Linked DNA regions of Homo sapiens. The protein of the gene in region 1 purifies or fractionates together with the protein of each later gene. This does not show direct contact. Each region holds a gene or a part of one and is shown in the gene's direction. Other genes may lie near its edges.

Region 1 (3,500 bases):
TCCCGGGTTTATGCCATTCTCCTGCCTCAGCCTCCCAAGTAGCTGGGACTACAGGTGCCCGCCACCACGCTCGGCTAATTTTTTGTATTTTCAGTAGAGACGGGGTTTCACCGTGTTAGTCAGGATGGTCTCTATCTCCTGACCTCGTGATCCGCCTGCCTCAGCCTCCCAAAGTGCTGGGATTACAGGCGTGAGCCACTGTGCCCGGCACTCTCAGTCATTATTAAAAATATTGAACACATGCCAAGTCAGAGCCTTGGTATCCGTATTGATACTGATCTGCACTCCCTATCCTAATTTTTACCCCAAGAATAGCTCCTCCATTCAGGGAGGGGTAGACAGGAAAAACAAAACGGGGGCTATGGATCTTTTGACACTTTCTCAGAAATAGTTCACAGACTGGTGTGCATTCCTCCCTTCCTGTCACTTTTCCCATTTGGCCCCTTGCCCAACGTGGCACCCTACATACTAGACTTAGCACTCATGGTAACCTTGGTCCCGCTCTTCTAGGACCCCAACGCAGACACTGAATGGAATGACATCTTACGCAAAAAGGGTATCTTACCCCCCAAGGAAAGTCTGAAAGAATTGGAAGAGGAGGCAGAAGAGGAGCAGCGCATCCTCCAGCAGTCAGTGGGTGAGTTCACTCGCTTTCCTCTGCACCTGTCTGGGTTAGGAGATGGCTCCCTAAGCCTCTGACTGCCCTGCCAGGAGACAGGTTGGAGTGCCAGCATGGACACTCTGTGTCTGTGGGACCTCAGACAAAACACAGGGCGTCTCTCACCTTCACCTTCCTGAGCCATAGACTTAGGGGACTTCAGATATGTCCCACAAGTCCTTGTCCATGTCACATGAGCACTGAAGAAAATACTTCTTTCTGCTTTCTGGTCTGTGATTCCCTTTGATAATGTCATGGAAATTTGTTCAAGGTTTTTAGTACTTGTATTTTCCTGAGCATATACTTTATTTTCTGTGGTTTCATTGAGGATATTAACTAAAAATTGCTTCATTTGGGGAGGCATAAGATGTTTGCAATGTGTGGGAGTCTGAGGGGGGTTTTCTCAAAGGCAGTTGTACTGTCTGAATTGGAGTCCCTTGGAGTGCTGGTAACCCCACCCACCTAGTGTTTACTGAAGCAGTCTCTGGAATGAGGCCCAGGAATCTGCATTTTAAACAAGTGCCTTAAAGGATTCTGATGCGTGTCATAGTTTGAGAAGCACTGGTCCCAGGGACTAGTACTTTTGTCCTCTGTTGACACATTAGAGCTAATTTAGAGAAGGATTTATTAGAAAGTATCCAGCGAGTGCTTACTGCATGATTATCATTGTCAGGTGCTTTTCTGGGGTTGGGGATTTAGCTATGCATAAGCCAGAGACAATTCTCTGCCCTCAGAGAACCAACATTCAAGTGGGGGAGACAGACAATAAACAATAAAGAAAATAAGGCAGTAAAAGGGACTAGAAAGGGTTGGAGGAGAAGCAGGCTCAGAGAGGGCCTCACTGAGATGACATTTGCATGGACCTGAAGGAGGTGAAGCTGGCATTTGGGTAAAGACCTGAAGGAGCTGAAGAACACATTTGAATAGACCTGAGGGAGTTGTTGAGACCTGAAGGAGGTGAAGAAGACATCTGGGTATTCCTGAAGGGGGTGACGTGAGCGAGTGAAATATGGGCCCTGGCATGGCTGGGAATCCCTGAGGAGCTGGAGGCGCTGGGGGAGAGAGTTCAGAGCAGCCTCAGCAGACCCAGAAGCTTCTAGTAAGGACCTTGGCCTTTACACCTAATGAGGCAGGAAGCTTTTGGATGTTTAAACAGAAGAGTGACATTTTCTCTTTTTTGTTTTTTTTTTGAGATGGAGTCTCGCTCTCTTACCCAGGCTGGACTGCAGTGGCGCAATCTTGGCTCACTGCAACCTCCGCCTCCCAGGTTCAAGCGATTCTCCTGCGTCAGCCTCCCGAGTAGCTGGGATTACAGACATGTGCCACCACGCCTAGGTAATTTTTTGTAGCGATGAGGTTTCACCATGTTGGCCAGGCTGGTCTCAAACTCCTGACCTCTAGTGATCCGCCCACCTCAGCCTCCCAAAGAGCTGGGATTATAGGCGTGAGCCACTGCACCCAGCCAAGGGATGCATTAACTTGGAGATCCCTATTAGACAAATAGCCACATTAAGAGGGCCCTTGGGTATGTTTTTCTCTACATTAGAGAAGTCTGGGCTGGAGGCCTATACTTTGGGAGTTGTCAGCATATTGATAGCACTGAAAGCCATGAGATTAGATGCAATCACCGAGGGAGTGGGTGTGGATAAAGAAGAAAAGTAGTCAAAGGTTTGAGCCTGGGGAATTTTAATCAGCAAAGGGTTCAACAGTAGGGCGGCTGGCTCACTCCTGTAATCCCAGCACTTTGAGATGGGCAGATCACTTGAGGTCAGAAGGTTCAAGACCAGCTTGGCCAACATGGTGAAACCCTGTCTCTATTAATGATACAAAAATTAGCTGGGTGTGGTGGCACACGCCTGTAATCCCAGCTACTCAGGAGGCTGAGGCAGGAGAATTGCTTGAATCTGGGAGGCGGAGGTTCTCAGTGAGTCAAGATCGCACCATTGCACTCCAGCCTGGATGACAAGAGTGAAACTCTGTCTCCAAAAAAAGGAAAATAAGCGGGGCAGGGTGAGGCGGAATAGGAGAAGAGAGGGGAGGAGGATCTGAGGGCTTGGGTAAAATGTTGTCAGTCAATAAATTGGGATTACAGGTGTGAGCCACCATGCCTGGCCTCTCAGCTTCTAATGTAGTGTGGTGCCTTAAGTAATTTTTGTTTAGGTAGGCTAAGGATCTGGTGTTGTGTGCATATCTTTAGGAGAAAAGAGAGGGGAAAAAAGAAAAATACATGTTCGTTCATCTTTTTAAATTTTTGCTTTTTGCCAATGTAACCAAATTCAGTGAAAACATATGAAGATATGACTTTGGAAGAGCTGGAGGATCATGAAGACGAGTTTAATGAGGAGGATGAACGTGCTATTGAAATGTACAGGTAAGCGCCACCCAGAGGGGCTGTTTGTTTTTTTGTTGTTGTTTGTTTTGTTTTGGTTTTTTTTTTGGCGTGGCAATAAAATGTGTGGGCTGAGCATGGTGACTCATACCTGTAGTCCCAACACTTTGGGAGGCTGAGGCAGGCAGATCGCTTGAGCTCAGAAGTTTGAGACCAGCCTGTGAAACCCCGTCTCTATAAATAATACAAAAACTAGCTGGGTGTGGTGGTGAACGGCTATAGTTCCAGCTACTCAGGAGCCCTGGAAGTGGAGGTTGCAGTGAGCTGAGACTGTGCCACTGCACTCCAGCCTGTGTGACAGAGCCAAACTCTGTCTCAAAAAATAAAATGAAATGTGTGTCCTTCAAAAAATTAATTTTCAGCTGAAACATCTAGGAGCGACTGCAATTAAATAATATTGTGAATTTTAGCAAACTGATCTTAGATTTTTGCCATAAGACCAATAAATAAACC
Region 2 (3,492 bases), on another chromosome or scaffold:
GCGCCTTTAAACCCACGAAAAAACCGGGAACGAGCTGCCGAAGTTTTCTTCGAGACCTTCAATGTGCCCGCTCTTTTCATCTCCATGCAAGCTGTACTCAGCCTGTGAGTAGCAGCTGGCTAGCCCGGCCCCTGCGGGGAAAGCAGTCCTTTGGCACAGCTGAGGCTGGCTCTCCTCTGGAATGGTTCAGAGTAACTTGAGCCCCCTCTGCTAGGGAAAGGTTAAAGATGGTGGGAAAGAGAGAGAGGCTTTTGCTGAAACTGAGCACTGAGGCTTCGTAGTTGAAAGCAAAGAAGGACATGTGGCTGCTATTGACCATATCCCAGTGTCAGGACTCCTAGTGGGTTTGGTCCCCAAGGCCTTGGCTGGGCCTGCCGAGGCAGCCACATGCTGCAGCAGCTCTTCCCGGAGGCCCCCGTAATGTGTCCACTTATTATTCAGCACTTACTGTGGCCAGCTGCTCTGCCAGGCTGTGAGACAACCATGATCCGAATGCCACCACAGTCCTTGTTCCCATCCCCCGTGGCTCCTGTCACACTCCTACCCCACCTCACACCAGAGTGAGGTCTACGGCAGAGATTATCCACAAGTGACCTACACGTGGGATTTATTTGACCCCATTAACAAACTGTGAGCCAGCATTTAAAAATCAAGAGGTGTCCCATCAAAACCCAAATTTTTGGCTTCTCTGAAAAAATGGGAAGATCTGGGAAGGTCGGGCACACATTCCCACAGGGCAAAAATCAGCTGGAGCTGAAGAGCGGCTGCCACTTGAGATGGGGCTGGCAAGCCCACCCTCCCCACAGCCTGTCCATGCTCTGTTGGCCTCTCCGCACTGAAGCAGGGGGTCAGTTGCCTCACTTGCCTTTTTTTGGAGGGAGGCTGACAAAGGTCCCCGGGCTCTCAAACCAGTAAAGCAGGGTCTTCTCCTGCCTTTGTTTTTTATGGAAGTGAAAAATATTCTTATTTTTCTTTACTCTTACTTTTCCTGCCTGGCCCCTGTTGACATTTGAGGGTTTTTGCCTTTTGTCTAGAGAGTTAAAACTGGCCCCTAGGCTGGGTCTCTGAAGCAGCTGAAGGCCAGGCCATCTCAGACAGGAAGGCCTGCTCTTCTGGGTACGGGGAGGGAACTTGGAGAAGATCAGCAACTTCCGTTCAGGTATTTCATGGCTTGCTCCAACACCTGGGCTTCCTTAGTACCCAGTCCATTCTACAGACCCTGGAGAGAGGCAGGCCCAAGCTTTAGTTTAGCTGACATTGAACCCTAAATAAAGAAGTGTATTTCTTCCCAGCGTGAGGAGGCAGTGCTGAGTGACGGTTTGCCCCTTTGCTTCAGTTACGCTACAGGCAGGACCACAGGGGTGGTGCTGGATTCTGGGGATGGAGTCACCCATGCTGTGCCCATCTATGAGGGCTTTGCCATGCCCCACTCCATCATGCGCATCGACATCGCGGGCCGGGACGTCTCTCGCTTCCTGCGCCTCTACCTGCGTAAGGAGGGCTACGACTTCCACTCATCCTCTGAGTTTGAGATTGTCAAGGCCATAAAAGAAGTAAGTGCTGCCCCCTGGGCCTAGGGATGGAGTGGGGGTTGGGAGCATAGCACCCAGGACCTTGGTGACCTGCCAGTGAAGCCAGGCAAAGCACCTGCCTGGGGGTCCCTGGTGAGGCCTTGTTCTTCCCAGCCAGGTCTCCCCTACGTCACACTGACAGATTCGCCTTCCTGACGTGCTGCCATCTTGTTGGGGGAAAGGGAGCTGCTTCCATTTCTTCAGTTGGGTGATGGCTACATAGGGGCTCAGTATGTTTTTTATACCTTATATGCAAATTACATAGGGTTTGGTTTTGTTTCATTTTGTTTTGTTTCTGAGATGGAGTCTCGCTCTGTCGCCCAGGCTGCAGTGCAATGGTGTGATCTCGGCTCACTGTAACCTCTGCCTCCCGGGTTCAAGCAATCGCTTGAATCCTGCCTCAGCCTCCCAAGTAGCTGGGATTATAGGTGCCTGCCACCACACCCCACTAATTTTTGTATTTTTAGCAGAGACATGGTTTCACCATGTTGATCAGGCTGGTCTCAAACTCCTGACCACAAGTGATCTGCCCGCCTCAGCCTCCCAAAGTGCTAGAATTGCAGCATGAGCTACCGCGCCCACTCCTGGTTTTTTTATTTTTATTTTTTTAACATCCTTGAAGAAGTCATAATACATTTAAAACATTTGTCTTTGTAAGTAAACTGAAACCTCCTGCCACCTGTGGCTATAGGGAAAACTCGAGCTGGGTAGGACCAGAACCATATGAGTGGTAGAAGGAGAAAGATGCCTGGGCCTGGGCTGAACTTAGGTTGTGGTCTCAGACCTAGGATCCAGGGGCCAAGTTTCCAAGCTTGCCCATCAGGAAGGTGGAGCGGTTAAGAACTCATATGCTAAATGCCACCCAGTGAAGGCCAACAGAGACCTCACTGCCCCTGCTTCTGGGCAGCAGCTATAGTGACCATTGGGGCCATCACAACGTTTAGACAGGTTTGTGCAGCAGCACATTCCTCCCCTGGGCCTTTGACTGGATGTGCACCAGATTTCCTGCCAGCCTGACTGTCTTGCTTGGATCTGCAGAGAGCCTGTTACCTATCCATAAACCCCCAAAAGGATGAGACGCTAGAGACAGAGAAAGCTCAGTACTACCTGCCTGATGGCAGCACCATTGAGGTAGGTGGCCTGCCTTCTTTCTTCGGTCCCCTTAGGTCCACAAAAGCTCTGGGCCCAACCAGAATTCTCCATCAGGGTCTGGAGTCTGGCAGGCCAGTCCCTTTACACCAAGCTTGTCCAACCCCTGGCCCATGGGCTGCACGTGGCCCAGGATGGCTTTCAGTAAGGCCCAACACAAAGTCGTAAACTTTCTTAAAACATTATGAGATTCTTTTGCAATTTTTTTTTTTAGCTCAGCAGCTGTCATTAGTGTTAGTGTATATTATGTGTGGCCCAAGACAATTCTTCTTCCAATGTGGCCCAGGGAAGCCAAAAGACTGGACACCCCAGCCTTACACCCTCTCTCTGGAGCAGCAGAGCTCCTGAGCATGAGTGGCCCTGTCTCCTGCAGAGGAGGCAGCCAGAACTTTGCTCCCTCCCGCTAGAGGGGAGGAAGCTCCTAAGGGATTGTCCCACATCAGTATGAGATTAGGAAGTGGGATGGTTAGTGCCATCCTTCACCACACCTGGGTGCAGTGTAGGGTGAGTTACCACTCCCTTGAACCCCCATTGCTAGGAAGACGTTTCCATGAGCAAATAAATCCATGTACTGATGCCAAAGACCTCTTGGCTGGAAAATGCCAGAGCGAGAAGGAAATATAGGAGCCTCCCCTCACTAGTTTCCAGGAGGCCTATCTTTGTTCCTTTAAGCCCTTGACATGTAGAGTCTGTCTTGAGCCTGGCCTTCATAGCCACCCAGTTACTAAGTGACGTGCAGAGGGGCGTCTTCCATTCCCACTCCCAAAGGGAC

The links. The genes of interacting proteins can lie anywhere in the genome.
Region 2: the proteins of PDCL3 (region 1) and ACTR1A purify together in Homo sapiens (co-immunoprecipitation; 2 studies listed by BioGRID and IntAct, with this or other methods). This does not show direct contact.

What each region holds. Positions count from the first base shown.
Region 1 is NC_000002.12:100,565,993-100,569,492, forward strand, and holds part of PDCL3 (phosducin-like protein 3), read left to right. Parts: intron 1-510; coding exon 511-637; intron 638-2,938; coding exon 2,939-3,029; intron 3,030-3,500. UniProt on the Homo sapiens protein: Acts as a chaperone for the angiogenic VEGF receptor KDR/VEGFR2, increasing its abundance by inhibiting its ubiquitination and degradation.
Region 2 is NC_000010.11:102,482,221-102,485,712, reverse strand, and holds part of ACTR1A (alpha-centractin), read left to right. Parts: coding exon 1-104; intron 105-1,336; coding exon 1,337-1,553; intron 1,554-2,609; coding exon 2,610-2,702; intron 2,703-3,492. UniProt on the Homo sapiens protein: Part of the ACTR1A/ACTB filament around which the dynactin complex is built. The dynactin multiprotein complex activates the molecular motor dynein for ultra-processive transport along microtubules.